2 separate regions of the Homo sapiens genome follow, and region 1 is linked to region 2. Evidence: fine-mapped expression QTL. Tissue or cell type: whole blood. Region 2 holds a variant in brackets; the other region holds the start of a gene. All regions are shown on one strand. Distances are between the middles of the regions.

Region 1 (8,111 bases), 25 kb before region 2:
AGTTTACTTGACCAGGGAAATGGGAACAAGTGTAAGAATGTCTGTCAGGCAAACAGTGGCACTGGCAAATAGGAATGATCTGAACTGCAACTTTGATGCATACAGATTTTCCTGAAAGGTAACTTTATTACTAAAGGCTTCATACATAAAGATGATATAAAACAAATAGAAGATTTTAAATTTTATGTAGTTTAAGTGGCTTACCAGAAGTTTTGATTTCTTATCGGTTACTGTGAGGTATCCTGTAAGAATAAACTGTTAAGAAGACAAGAGACAAAAGTTAACAGGTGATGTGTTTGACCACCTTGCAGTATAATTTCCCTTGGATTTGCAAAATATCTGTTTGTGAATCTCCAAGACCATCCCGTTTTTCCACCTGAGCATCAGGGAGTAGGGAAGGTAGGCGTAGGTAGGGTAGGAAGAAACTTTGTGCTGGATTTGCTCAGCACTGAACAAGCGCTCTCTGCCAGGGCCAACTGGGACAGGCAGGCTCCTCTAAGATCCAGAGGACCAGATGTTTGATCCGGCTGGGGCTCCAAAAAGAGATTCCTGAGCTCTGGGCCTTGAAGAGAAGAGGAGGAGCTGTGCCTGTTCTGAGCAGGTGAAGGGAGACTTTCTCAAGGAAGACCCCTCTAAAGGCTGATATGGGGACTGATATCTAGTGTAGTTATCAGAGTCCCTCATTTCCCATGATCGTAGAGCCTAGTACCACCTCAGGAAAATGAGAACTCTGTCACTCCATGTGGAGTCCCTTACTTTTTTAATGTTCTGGGGATGGGAACCTTCTCTGTGGGAACTGGCCTTGGACCTTGGGGACATCTGGGTCTTAGAGTCCAAGGATCTGCAGCTGACTTGCAGAGATCAGAAAGTTACCTTTGATACCTCCCTCCGCTTCACTCCCCACATTGGATTGCCAAGTCCTGTCACTTCTACCTCCGAGTCACTCTCAAGGCTCTCCATCTCTAGCTCCATTGCCACCAAGCTAGTTCGGGAAACTCTTTCCTCATCTGTGTGTTTGTAGCCTCCTCTCATTGGATTCTCCTAGGTTTACTGTTATAATTGAATTAATTTCTCACTCTAAAAACACAATGATACTTCAACAAGTCTTCAAGTGTCACTATCCTCTTTAAAAACGTTCAGTGGCTTTCCCATGCTTTCACATTGAAGTTCCATTTTCTTAACATGACTATAGGGGTTGGCACGACCTGGTTACACCCTACCTTTATAGCCTCATTTTATGCCATCACGATAGATTCATTGGTCTTCTTTTGGTTACTCTTTCCCACATCAAGCCCTTGGCTCATGCTTTATCTTTGCCAGGGATGCTTTCCTTCCACTTCGCCTAGTGAGCAGCTACGCAGAAAGCACTTGCCTGACCTCCATGGTCAGGTGAGTCCTCTATTAAACCCTCACATCGCACCTGGAACTCTCCTCTTAGAGCACTTAGCACAAGTGTAGGAACAAATATTTGGGGTTACTTTTGACTTTTTCATGTCTAGTCTCCCAGTTAGATGACAAACTGTCTAAATCTAAGAACAATTCACCACTTCTCTCAGAGAGGAGCTGTTTTCCAGTATTCTCAGTCTCAGCACCTAGGATGCCATTGAAGACGCGGTATGTGCTCAGTAAATATCTTTTAAGTGAAAAGTAGAGTTTTCAAAAGCAGCATGCCAGAATCTCATTTTAATTCACACATGCAGAGTACACAAAGTCACACTGGGACAATTCTGTTGTGAAATGAGAAAGTGAGGGGTTGGTCTGTTTGATTTTCTACAGTATGGCATGTATAGTTTGAAAATCATATTGAATATTACATTATTTATATTGGGAAAATGAAAACACTGCTGGTTGTTTCTGAAATGCACATTATAGAAAAGGCATGGAGTATTTCTGTTTATCAAAAGAGACTGTGGATTTTTAATAGTCAGAGATAGTGGCCTAATTTATTAATTATTTCACCTATTTGTTGATTGATTGATTGATTGATTCATTCGTTCGTTCATGCACACTATGCCTCAAGCATGATTCTAGGTTCTCAGAATATAACAACTAAAACAGACAGTAACACTGCTGTCTTCTCAGGAGTGTATGTTATAGTAGGAGAAGCTCTAATGAGTCTGTCCTTAAATATTATGGCACAAAATTAGGAATCCAGGCTGTGGGGATTGGATAGAAATAGCACTGTATTAAGAATAATATTTATGGCTATATGATTATCTAGATGAGTGCCACTCATAAAGTTGTCTCTGGGGCTAAGAAGGAGGATGAGTGATAATAATTTTAAAATTCTTTTTAAGCTTTCAGAGTCTGTGATTCCATGAGTGCTAGCTAGGCTAGATATGTTTAAGTTATTCTCTACTTTTGAGCTCAGTTTCCTTATTTGCAAAGGAATAAGTAGGATATTTGTGCATCTAGTCTCCCAGGTTGGTATTGAGGAGCAAATGTCTTACTATACACACAAGGGCTTTGGAAACAAATTTTAAGCACCTGAGAGTAGTTATTACAATGATGATGGTAGTGCAGTGACCAAATGGAGTTGCTTCTTTTGCCGTGAAGGGAGCTGCCTTTTTTGGTCTCCTGGAGGGCCATATTTATGGAATTCATTACCCTAGGACGTGAAGCAGTTCAAATCTATCTTTATAGCAATTTCTCCAAAGCTTCTAATCGACAGTACTCACAATAAGTGCTCCCCAGAATGGATATCCTGTGAGGACAACAAGGGGAAGTCTTTGGGAGAAACCGATGTAATTAAGTGCAAATATAGTTCCAAAGCCCACAATGATTAGAGCAAGCAGGATCTGGGTAGCCTGTGAGGAGAGAAATGGGTACATGAGGTTACAAGTATCCAAGACCCTGTGGGCTACCCCACGTCCCTCAGGGTGTGCCTCCATGGCACACCTTTCCCTCCATCCAAATGCCTTCCTCTCTCATTTGTCAATCATTCTCAGATTGTTAAGAGACTCAGTTCAATGTGTTTCCTTCCCACTTTGCTTGCCTGGATCCTTCAGGTTCAAATCCTTCACTTTTATTCTTTATTATTTTCTATCTTCCCTGGTGTTACCAATTAATCTTATATCAGACAGATTTGAGTACATGTCTGACTACCCCCAGATTATAAGCTTCTTGAGCACAGGGACTATAAACTATTCACCTTTACATTTGTTTTTTCGTCTGTCTCACCAGTATCCTATTATTATCCTAACAGCCCCCACCCCCACATTTTCCAGCACTCAGTATAGGCTTTTGGAATTGGGGCTCATCCCAGTTGTCTAAAAATTTAAAAAGTTTGATGACATAGAGTGGAGAACCTGGGATGAGCTTGCATTTCACCTCCCCTTCATCCATGGACCCAACTAGGGATGAGAATAGCCCAGTGGGCCTATCAGCTTGTAGGAATCTGCAGGGAAAAGAATAGCAGCAGTGGTTCTCAGGGCGCAACTTCTCTGGCAGTCTAGATTTTGTCCCCAGGCCACATCTCTGGGCTGTGGCACACCAAGTAATGATTTTTGCTGTTGTACAAAGGATGGAGGCTGTGCATACAGCTCTCCCCTGGGTGCATTTGTGATGAAAAACGTTTTGCATGCCTTATCATTTGGTTCACTGTGGAGCTTTGAATATGGGTTTTGAAGCACTCCCAATTCCTTTAAGAGCATGAAGGGGAAGTCAAACCTCTCCACTTATGGTTTCTTAGCTTCAAGGGAGGTGCCACCACACCCTGAAGTCACTTCCTCAATGAGATATTTTAAAAAGTTATACTAGTTTCTTGCTTCCCCCTCTGCTGGGATTCAAAGATCAGTACTAATTTCTCATGTAAGGTGAAGGGGGAAAAGTAGAATTAACTCCCTCCCTGAAAATAATCTCTGCATATCTCTGCAGACATACATGAATAAATAAACTTCTTTTCTCCCCTTCTGGAAGACCTATTGACTGGAGAGGACTTACCCCCAAGACTCTTGGCTCTCCCTTCAGAAAATCCAGCAGAGAGCTATGAGGTCTGTAGGGAAATGCAGTCAATACAGTTTCGTTTGGTTTTATAGTGATGACGTGAGTTGCCCTTCTGTCCTGGGATGTTGACTCCATGATTCTATGGCAGAACTCTAGTAAGGGAAAGAGTGAGCAAACATTGCCGCCCAAATCATGATCTACCTCTCCACCAGAGTCACATGGAGCCCTCAGAGATGAGCCCTTAGTGATGACTCTACTCAGTAGTAGAATCTCAGAATCATAGTTGAGTCACAGAGTTTTAGAATTCTAGAGCATGCTCAGCCCCCCATCTTCCTGGTGAAAAGTACTGTATCCAGAAGACTTACTCTCTTGTCAATTTGCTTACAAACATATGGTAAACAAAGAATAGATGGTATATACGAAACAAGTCCTTACACATATGTTCATGAGTTATAAAGGAACTAAAACTTATGGAATATTCCTTATGTTCTGGGAACTGTGTAGAAGGTGTTGACATGCACTAACATTTATTCTTTTAACAGTTCTACAATACTGAAACTGAGGAACAGCAAGGTTATGTCACCCAAAGACATACAGGACAGGGAAGGGGCAAACTCAACTTGACCTGTCTCCAAAATCTATGTTTTTTAAACTCAGCCACGCTTCTGCCCTCCTTTGAAAGGAGTTTCTTTTACTTGATGAATTTTCTAACTTACTGTTTAACCATATTTCTCTGTATTATAAAAATCAGTAGATAACTTTGAATTTCGATTTTTTTCCATCTTTATTGAGGTATATTTGACAAATAAAAATTATATATATTTAGGGTGTACTACATGTTTTGATATACATATACATTCCAAAATGATTACCACAATCCAGCTAATTAACATATCCATCACCTCACGTAGTTATCTTTTTTCTTTTTTTGTAGTGAGAACATTTAAGAACATTTAACAATTCTTTGCATTTTCAAATTAAACAAAAAAAAATCAGTAGTAAAGATGCTATAGGACCAGATGGAGTTGCCCCTTTATAACAGAGAATATTTTAGCTTTCATAAAGTTAAGCAAAATCTAATGATAGTCAAATCCTTCCTGGTTTGAACTACACAAATACTAATTAAAACAACAGAAACTGCCTTTAGAAATTTTGCTTCCCATATTGATCCTTTATATTCCTAAATTTATTACAATTTTAACTATGAGATCATGAAGGTAAATTGTTTCATAAAACTAAAACCAATGTATACACATAATAACTTGAGTATTTCCTGGTTTGTAGCGACCATCGATAGCAGGGTATCTCAAAATGAGCACTGATGACATTTGGACTCAATAATTCTTTGTTGTAGAAAGTTATAAGATATATATATTTTAAACTATGCTACTCCTCATTTATTTAGGAAACCTCATATGCATAGAGAGTGCAAAGTTAAACTGCAGCCACACTGGAATTTCCATAATTGCCCAAGAAATCGAGTTTAATGCAGAGGCTCACACAGAACATATTACACAAAGAACAGACAAGATAATTGCAGCAATGACTGGGAAGAAAGAATACGCCCATGTGGTACAAAGTGCAGGGGTGATGATCTGAATTACAAAACTGTGCTATAGATCAAAATAGAGCTAATACCCAAACAAAGAAATAGACATTATTCTTTTCAGCATGAGCAGCATTTAGCTCCAAGCTAGAAGCAGAAAACATGCCAGTCAGAGATTATCTGTAACTTGTTAAGACTAAGATGTCTTCATTGACTCCTACCCTGAAATGACAGAAGAGAACATAGTTTATGTGCCAACGACTGAATATTCTTTTTTATTTTATTTTATTCATTTATTTAAAATAAATGAATTCAAAGACTATATATAGTCTATTTTTATTTTTATTTATTTTTTTATTTATTTTGAGATGGAGTTTTGTTCTTGTAGGCCGGGCTGGAATGCAGTGGTGCAGTCTCCGCTCACTGCAACCTCCCCTTCCCGGGTTCAAGTGATTCTTCTGCCTCAGCCTCCCAAGTAGCTGGAACTACAGGTGCGCACCACCATGCCTGGCTAATTTTTTGTATTTTTAGTAGAGACAGGGTTTCACCTTGTTGGCCAGGCTGGTCTCAAACTCCTGACCTCGGGTGATCCGTCCACCTCGGCCTACCAAAGTGCTGGGATTACAGGAGTGAGCCACCGCGCCCAGCCAAGAAGGCCATTTTTAAACAATAGAATGAGCACCACTGGTTGGTGCCACAGGATTGCAGAGATTTGGATTTACATGGTAAGATTCATGGGAGGCAGGGACATGCTTGCTGTGTGTTGAGAGGTAATCCTAAGCACTTGAGAAGATCTCTTTGCTGTCTTCCACCTAATGGCTCATGAAAAAGGGCCCAGTAGATCTGTTTCTCAGAGAGTGTCCAGGGCAGAGTAGTTTAATTATATATAGTCTTTAATTTTTAATTAAAGTTTTCTTACAATCCCTAATATGTAATATTTAAGCAATATGAGTGTGAAAATAATACAGAAACAGCCTGCAGAGTCACGCAACTTACCAAATTCACACTAGCATGAGTGCACATTTTCCCTTCTGTGTATCACCTTCTGCTCAGTTTACCCAAAGCAGTTTATAAAGTTTATGACCATTTTGGAAGACTGGCTGATAACATTTATTGACTTGGGCTTTGAGGAAATTATTTTCAAGAGAAATTAAATAACGACTCATAGTAAACAAATACAAAACAAAAGCTTTTTTTTTTTTAGTTTGTTTCACAGTATCTAAAATGGCAGAGATTTCAGGAAAGTCTAATCACACTTGACCATGAGTGTTGAGTTGCTTTTCCTTCCTCTGAGGCCAAGAGTTACTTATATCCAAGACCGTGAAGAACTCTTTTTGACCTGTTGGATATGATCTTGTGACTGGGTCGAGGAAAATGAACTCTAGAAAATACATAATTGGTTAGAATTTTTAAACTTTGATTTCGGAGATTAAAAAAGATAACTCATAATACCTTTTCCCCAAGTTTTGTGTAGTACTAGTTCTTCCAACTTTGCCATAATATGTAATTGCAGCAATATTAATTAAAAATAATGCAATTCTCCAGTCTGCTAATTATTTTACTATTTTAAATAGGATCATAGTTAAATCATAATTCATCCAAATTCTATAAACATTTCTTTTGTTGTTGTAGCCTTTAGGGGAAATGAAAATATTTTAAAATTATAACATCAAGAGCTAAGGGGATGTAAGGAAGAGCACAGGGAAGCATAAACAGGACAGAGACATTCTAGTAAAGTCTCATCACATTAACAAGGAAACTTGGCTAGGGAGACTCTCTCGGGAGGCAGGTAGCTGTGTTCCCGATAAAAGTGAGGGGATACGCGTTCTCATTCTCAGCCCAATAGTCTGTGTCATTCATTTTCTATGTAATTTTATCCAAGCCGTGGTTCTTTCATGAGGGGTTGGGCTATGTGATTTCTAAAACCAACTAGCTTCATATTAAGCAATTCTCTAACTGGTCTGCTTCCCAGTAGACACCAGCTGATCCCAGATGACCAGAGTGTCCTCCAGAAGGAGCCCATTTATACAAACTCTTTTTTTTTTTTGAGACTGAGTCTCACTCTGTCACCCAGGCTGCAGTGCAGTGGTGTGATCTCAGCTCACTGCAACCTCCACTTCCTGGGTTCAAGCAATTCTCCTGCCTCAGCCTCCCAACTAGCTGGGACTACAGGCGTGTGCCACTGCACCTGGCTAGTTTTTCATATTTTTAGTAGAGATGGGGTTTCACTGTTAAACTCATTTTTTTAATTATAAAAGTGGCCTTCCACATGCACCTCATGAACAATAATTGATTCTTCTTTTTGCCACTTTTTGAGGTTGGATTATTGTAGCCTGGACCTGAGACACAGCAGGTATCAGGCGACATGTCAGCATACTCACCCCAGGGTTGTTGGAGTAGAGCTGTTTCCACCAAAAGACAGAACTGTATGCAGCTAATAAGAGCTCCAGCACAGTGAAGATGAGCATCACCACTAGGACACCCTGCAAATCAGGACATGAATGGCTGGTACCCAAGACAAGCTAGCCCTTGTGCCTGGCTAAGAGGAGACAGGGCGATGAGGCTCCAGCAATGCAGAGAAAAGGAGACAGGGAAAATTGCTTAATCCTCTTTTCTGCTT
Region 2 (8,111 bases):
TCCACATGAAAAATATTCCTCACTTTTCATTGAAATACCACAGTTTGAGTGCTTCTTCTGTGCCAGGCTGTGTTCTAGGTGCTTGGATTGCATCAATGGACAGAACAGAAAAAACCACCTTCCTCTATGGTGTTTTCATTCTCCTAGAATGTTCAAATAGAACAGTGAGGAAGCATACTACATAGTCCTAGTAATAAGCCTAGTAACAAGGTGAATAGACCAATGGAACAGAACTGATGTTAAGAATAGCATTTTACTCAGGATTAAGAAACTGACTCAAAACCACTCAACTACATGGAAACTGAACAACCTGCTCCTGAATGACTACTGCGTACATAAAGAAATGAAGGCAGAAATAAAGATGTTCTTTGAAACCAACGAGAACAAAGACACAACATACCAGAATCTCTGGGACACATTTAAAGCAGTGTGTAGAGGGAAATTTATAGCACTAAATACCCACAAGAGAAAGCAGGAAAGATCTAAAATTGACACCCTAACATCACAATTAAAAGAACTAGAGAAGCAAGAGCAAACACATTCAAAAGCTAGCAGAAGGCAAGAAATAACTAAGATCAGAGCAGAACTGAAGGAGATAGAGACACAAAAAACTCTTCAAAAAATTAATGAATCCAGGAGCTGGTTTTCTGAAAAGATCAACAAAATTGATAGACTGCTAGCAAGACTAATAAAGAAGAAAAGAGAGAAGAATCAAATAGAAGCAATAAAAAATGATAAAGGGAATATCACCACCAATCCCACAGAAATACAAACTACCATCAGAAAATACTATAAACACCTCTACACAAATAAACTAGAAAATCTAGAAGAAATGGATAAATTCCTGGACACATGCACCCTCCCAAGACTAAACCAGGAAGAAGTTGAATCCCTGAATAGACCAATAACAGGCTCTGAAATTGAGGCAATAATTAATAGCCTACCAACCAAATGGCTCTCATGGGGTGAATAAGCTTTAACATATTGAAACGAGGGGAGTTTTCCCTTATCCCCCTTGCAGGGTGCGTGATGGGGGTGTGGCTCACTTCTTTGGTGCCCCGCAGCTCAAACCCCTAAGGGAAGCATGCAGACGGGCAGGTCATGGGGAGCGTGGGCTCCGACTCCATGGCAGCATCTAGGGTTGAGTGTTTACAGCTCCCGAAGCCCAAATGGGTGTATGTTACAATGTGCTCTTTCAGCTTAGCCGTCCGCAGGCACCTTGCTTTAATGAGCTCAGTTAGACCCTCTACCTTATCGCAAGGACAGAGGGCTTTCTGTATCCCAGGGTTCTTGCCCAAGTGTCCCAGAAAAATCAGATCATATGTGGGCTTGGAGAGTGAGTGCAAGGTTTTATTGAGTGGTGATAGTAGTTATCAACAGATGGACAGGGAGCCAGAACGGGGATGGAGTGGGAAGGTGGTCTTCTCTGGAGTAGGGCTGCTCAGCAGCCTGGCTCTCCTCCAACCACCCTCAGCTGAATTTCCTTTGGTATCTGCTTTGTTCTGCCATCGATGGTCTGCCAGCAACTGTTGGTGTGTTCTTCTGCCAGTGTGTTCCTCTTGACATCCAGCCACTTGTGTGTGTATACCCACTAGGGTATCAGGGTTTTTATAGGCACAGGAGGAGGGGCATGGCTGGCTTGGAAATGCAACATTTGGCATGAAAACAGGAGTGCCTGTCCTCACCTGGGTTTGTGGGCAAAGGCCGAGGGTGGAACCTCGCCAGGGACCCTGCCCTTCTCTACTTAGCACTTCCCTGCCCCTCTCCCATATCAATATGTTGATGGAATTATTTAAAAAATTGTTCTCTAGGCTAGTGTGAGAATCCTGAAACTGTTCTGAATATCAGTCTGAAGATGCAAATGATAGACAGTTAATGCTTGTAAGGCCCATAGCTATGGAGATGTGGTTGACCCTAATCATGAATTTTGCACATTCATTCTCGAAAGCCCACCTGAGAATGGTGACAGTGGCACATAAGAGAAAAAAGGAGGAAAAGAACAATAAAAAGGGCAAAGACAAAGATACCTATTATGTATTTAGGGGCTCAGAAAACAATACCCCAAAACAATACCTCAGAAGCAAAAGTTTTTCTCTGACTTCCTTTCCTGTCTCTCAGTCCTATCTTCCTTTGAGGCTAGCTGTACAAACAAGAATCCCTCCCCAAGGTGGGTCATAGAAACCAGACACCCCTCTTGCCACAGCCAGCCTTAAAACCTAAAAGTGTTACTCTAACTCTCCTTCCACTCTATCTGTGTAAAACTGGTCATAAAGAAATCATCTGAGCTATCTTGTTTGACTGTAGGTCATAAGATGCCCATTCCAGAGATGGTCCTGTCCTACAACCAAAATGAAGGAATGCAGCACAGAGAGGCCAAGAAAAACCTAGACAGACGGGTCTTGCTCGGTTCTAACTAAGCCTATTAGCATAGATTATATCCAGTCATATTTCTACAGGGCTGTCCTTACTTCGTTGAACCTAAGCATACAAATGGATACTTTCCCCTATATTTTTTGGGTCTTCATTCTGAAGGCCCTCATGTCTATGTGTTGAATAATTTGTATGCCTTTTCTCAATTAATCTGACTTTTACAAGTTGACTTTTCAGCGAAACTTCAGAGGGCAAAAGGGAAGCTATACCCTTGGCCCCTGCAATGTTCTTTTTTTTTTTTTTTTTTTTTTTTTTGAGACGGAGTCTCACTCTGTCGCCAGGCTGGAGTGCAGTGGTATGATCTTGGCTCCTCGACTCACTGCAACCTCTGCCTCCCGAGTTCAAGTGATTCTCCTGCTCCAGCCTCCTGAACTGGGACTACAGGTGCATGCCACTACGCTCAGCTAATTTTTTGTATTTTTGGTAGAGACGGGGTTTCACCATGTTGGCCAGAATGGTCTCGATCTCTTGACCTCGTGATACGTCCGCCTCAGCCTCCCAAAGTGCTGGATTACAGGCATGAGCCACCGTGCCCGGCCCTGGGCCCCTGCAACATTCTTGCCATTCTTGTAAAGACTCTTGGAAGCTCCAATAAATTCGAATCCCATCTCTTAGTGATAGTCATTCAATTCCTCAAACATAGACATATTTACAGGCAACTGTGATTCTTTAGTCTGTAATAAACTTGGAGAGAGGTCAGATAACTGTCTTTTAAACTGGGGTTTAGAAGACACTGGGATTGTGTGTAACCACAACAGGTGCCTTGCTAATCCTCTCTAGTACAGTCTCCCAAAGGTGTCTTTATCTCCAATATGACATCCTGGCCATTTTATAGGTTTGCATTTTATATCTATAAAGTTTGCTTCATCCTATGCCCTCCTTTGCACTACCACTGATCTTAGCCTATTAAAATTGCAATGATTTCTATCTCCCAACAGCAGCTGATCTGCACTATTGCCCAGTAATTTCTCGAAATCAGAAGGACTTAATTCCACTTTCCTGATCCTCAGAAATCATTATATTCTTCAAGTTCCCATCCCATTTCTGTCACATTTGTCCATAAGATAATCCCATTTGTAGCGTCTCTAAGACCTAAGACTGATTGAATTTAACAAAACAATTTGTTCCAATAATTTGCCGTAATTAGGAGAGCTAAGTGAATTTTATGAGTTCTCCTTCTTTTTTTAAAAAAATTGAATACTATTAACACTTTCTGTTAAAAAGGGCTTAGTATAAAAGGGTTTCTTAAAACTGGCCTGGGACCAATATGTGTTTGTCTGTTTTTTATTTCTCCAGATCACGCTTTACTTCCTCAGTGAAAATGCCATAGTTCCTTTTTTTGTTCACGTTTTCCCTTTTTTCCCATAGAAGTTTCTGGTGCCTATTATTACAAATGTTAACAAACTCTTAGAAATATCTAGAAATCAAACAAAGCTGCATTAAATCTAAGAGACTTCACAATCATGTTACTTTCCCTCCCAAGGTAGACAAAAATGCATTTTCCCTTTGTTTATTCCACCAGGGAAAACTCAGAAAAAAAAATCTTATTAAATTATAGGTTCTATAGCCTTAATTCTTTATAGCTCTGCTCACTATCCACAGCATAGAAGAGCTTCTTTTACTCACATATCTTCCTGGAAGGTATGTGAGTCATTCCTGTGACATTATGTGGATTCTCCATGTCAAGGAGGGTCTGTTTATTTTGAACTGGCAGTTCTGGAAGTATGTACACATGGCAAAGTCACACATCTGATTACCGTACGTTATTGTATGTGTAGTGAAAAACTAGGAAGCCAATATTTAGTTAATGGCTAAAGAATCTATCTGGGCTAAAGTGACTACTAGAGACCTGGGTAGACACACAGAGATGAGCAGAACCCCCATGCCCCTCAAAACCACATAAAATACACAAATATATATGCAAACAAAACAATCCCCACAAACAAAACCCAATACAAATAATACTCTGCTGACAAAATTCTTGAGTGAGTCATTGTTTACACAGCTGTTAATTGTACAAGCTAGAAACCGAATCCGGTTCTCCATACTTTAAACTCATATTGTGCCAATCACGAAGGCTTCACAAAAACAAACTGAGACGTTCCTAGTCCTGGCAAAGGTAATATTTCCTAGGTAAACCTTTGGCTTCCCCGATAATTGGATTTGAAGGTAATTGTCTA[T/C]GTCTGTGTTACACTGATGTCCAGCATCACCATAAGACATGTTGATGCAGTTACAAATTAAAGCATTTATGAGACCTTGAGAATCCAAGCTGATGAAATGCTCTCACCCTGGCCTTCATGAAATAGCTCATGTTTGCAATGCTGATACATATTCCATTATTTACTAATCTTGCTTCCCTGAGGTATTAATAGTTCTGCTGAGTATTGACAATAAATGGTAGAGAACAGGTACTATGGACCCCTGTAGGCAACACAGCATATAAGAAACAATGTTGGTCTTGGACTTATAAACTCTAAGTCTGAATCATAAATCTGGGTGAGTCACTATGGCTTTCTGTAGATTAATTTCTTCACCCATTAAATACTAGAAATCAATAAAACCAGGAGATTTTTAAGGTAATCCCAGCTATAGCATTAAACAAATGGTGCATTCTAAATGGTGGGGAAAGGTGACTGAGGTAATTATTAGTGAAAACAATTTTAACCTCACTTTTAATATTAGAATAACTTGAAGTTTATTTGCTCATTTGTACAATTACATTATTTCTAAAAATACCTAGATTAGTATATCAATTTGAGATTGCATTCCTTAATGCCAAAGCTTCACCAGTTAGAAATGCAGGCTTTTTCAAGAAGTCTAGGGAAACTGTCTAGAGCTAATTAACAAGACCTACGATATTGTAACCGCTCAGTGGGTTCTCTCTGCCCAGTTCCTAGACAGAGCCAGTTTATCAAGACAGGGGAATTGCCATAGAGAGAGTTTAATTCATGCACAGCTGACTCTATGGGAGACCCTCTAGACTTTTATTATTACTCAAATCAGTCTCCCCAAAGATTCAGGGATTAGGTTTTTTAAGGATAATTTGGTGAGTAAGGGGCCAGTGAGTTGGGAGTGCTGATTGCTTGGGTCGAAGATAAAATCACAGGGAATCAAAGCTGCCCTCTTGCACTTAGTCAGTTTCTGAGTGGGGGCCACAGGACCCAGATGAGCCAGTTTATTAATGTGGGTGGTACCAGCTGATCCATCAATTGCAGGGTCTGCAAAATATCCGAAGCACTGATCTTAGGTTTTACAATAGTGATGTTATCCCCAGGAGCGACTGGGGAGGGTGAGAACTTCGCAGCCTCCAGCTATATGACTCCTAAACCATAATTTCTAATTGTGTGGCTAATTGGTTACTCCTACAAAGGCAGTCTAGACCCCAGGCAGGAAGGGGTCTTGTTTTGGAAAGGAGATATTGTCTTTGTTTCAAACTGTAAATTAAGTTCCTCCCAAAGTTAGTTTGGCCTAGGCCCAGGAATGAACAAGGATGGCTTGGAGGTTAGAAGCAAGGTGAAGTTGGTTAGGTCAGATCTCTTTCACTGTAATAATGCTCTCAGCCAGAATTTTGCAATGGCCATTTCAGTATCATCAGTGTTTTCAGATTCTCAGGTTTTTGTGCTCAGTTCTCCATAAGGTGAGCTTTCATCTCCATGGGAGCTGTATGGTAACAAGTTGGATAATCCATTGTCAGCTTTCTATTTGCCTTTTCTTTTGAAAGACTATGAAGAACAAGAAGGAAAAGAAGGACGGTGGTGAGAGGAGAGCAGTAGAAGGGAGAGGAAGGGCTATGCCTAAATAAGAAATTAGCCCATTCCCACAAATTCCAGCAAAATTCTTCTTAGGTCTCATTAGCGAGAGCTATGTCACACTGCCATTTTTATATACAAAGAAGGCTGGGAAATATCATCTCTTAATTGTGCAGAGTCCCACTTCTCAATAAAGTAATCATTCTTTTATAAGAAAAATGGGGAGATCAGATAATAAAAAGACAAATTATGTTGACTATTATATTACTCTGTTTTCACACTGCTCTAAAGAAATACCTGAGACTGTGTAATTTATAAAGGAAAGAGGTTTAATTGACCCATAGTTCCACGTGGCTGGGGAAGCCTCAGGAAATTTACAACACAATCATGGCGGAAGGCAAAGGGGAAGCAAGGGACTTCTTCACATGGTGGCAGGAGACAGTGTGTGAGAGTGCAGGAAAAACTACTGCTTAGAAAACCATCAGATCTTATGAGAATTCACTCATGATCACAAGAATGGGCATAGGGGAAACTGTCCCCATAATCTAATCACCTCCCACTAGGTCTCTCCCTAAACACTTGGGGATTACAATTCAAGATGAGATTTGGATGGGGACACCATGCCTAACCATGTCAACTATCGACATTGAATTTGCAAGATAATTTCTATTGGAGTGTGTGGATTTATCTTGGTGAACAGGATTCCTTGCATATTTCAGATAACCCAATTGTGAACTTACTCAAAGATTTATCTGAAAATATTTGTTCTTAGAGCTCCCAAGATGGTGGTGGGCTGCTCCAAAGATGGCAGCAAGCCTTTTGTTCTCTGACCTGGGGTTCTTGGCCTCACGGATTCCAAGGAATGGAAGCTTGGGCCATGCTGTGAGTGTTATAGCTCTATTGGAAGCCGTGGATGACGGAAGAGAACTGTGGAACCTGGTGACTAGTGTTCAGCCTGATTAGGACGAACCCGGGCACTTAGCCGTGCAGGAACAATAGCGAGCCTTTAGGGGCAATGGGCGCCTCGCTGGATCAGGAGCGCAGGGGACACCCTGCCAGATCCGGAGGGGTAGAAGTCAGCGGTGGTTCTGCGACGGCGGCAAACTGCAGTGGTGGACGCAAGCGATAGCTCTGCTCCAGCCAGAACAAACACGGACCAGAAGAGCAATCAGTTGCAAGATTTAATAGAATGAAAACAGAGCTCCCTTACAAGGGAGGGGACTCAAAGGGGGTTGCCGCTCCCTGCTCGAATGCCTGGGTTTATATCCCGATCATTGTCCCTCCCACTGTGCTCTCAGGCAATATATGATTTGACTATTTCTTTACTTCCTGCTGTTAGCCTAATTTGTATTTTAGTGAGCCCTCTTTACTACCTGATTGGTCGTGTATGAGCTGAGTTACAAGACCTGTGTTTAAAGGTGGGTACCGTCACCTTCTCCAGCTAGGCTTAGGAATTCTTAGTTGGCCTAGGAAATCCAGCTAGTCCTGTCTCTCAAAATGATACCTTTATGACTTGAACAAATTTCTAAGTATTTTCTTAAACCAGATGGTAGCAGAGAATGGGAATGAAACAACTTTGCCATCTTTTTGTTGATATTACTAAAACGCATTTGGAAACATTTTATTTTTCATTTTTACACATACACACACTCCTATATCATATAAAATTTTAGTGGCATTTAGAAAACAAAATGTATTGCTCAAGTTTTTTCTTTAATTTTGGTTAGCAACTAATTTTGAGTATAAAAGGAAAATATTTTTAGGAAACAAATCAAAACTGAATGTTTTTTCTCACTGCAGCTGATTCAGTTGACCGAAACTGGTAAGTGATTATAAACAACAGGACTTGTTTTAAACAACTCACTTTCCCAGCCTAAAGACTGAAGACTGCTAGTCTTCAGTCTTCAATTTGCATAACTATTATGAAACCTC

Evidence for each region. PIP is the estimated chance that this variant, and not a neighbour inherited with it, causes the effect.
Region 1: it holds the start of MS4A14, and the variant in region 2 is fine-mapped to the expression of MS4A14 in whole blood (INTERVAL, PIP above 0.99).

What each region holds. Positions count from the first base shown.
Region 1 is chr11:60,392,548-60,400,658 of GRCh38, reverse strand. MS4A14 (membrane spanning 4-domains A14) reads right to left here and starts at 4,200. Exons shown (of 5, transcript NM_032597.5): 1 at 3,943-4,200; 2 at 2,679-2,807; 3 at 205-255. The coding sequence starts at 4,080. It overlaps MS4A7 (membrane spanning 4-domains A7), which reads right to left. Exons shown (of 7, transcript NM_021201.5): 6 at 7,873-7,974; 7 at 4,711-6,872. The coding sequence ends at 6,798.
Region 2 is chr11:60,367,228-60,375,338 of GRCh38, reverse strand. No RefSeq gene overlaps it. Among named protein-coding and RNA genes, the nearest start is that of MS4A7, 7.2 kb to the left of the region's middle. RefSeq lists an enhancer at 7,226-7,732. The variant T/C (reference allele first, on the strand shown) is at 4,611.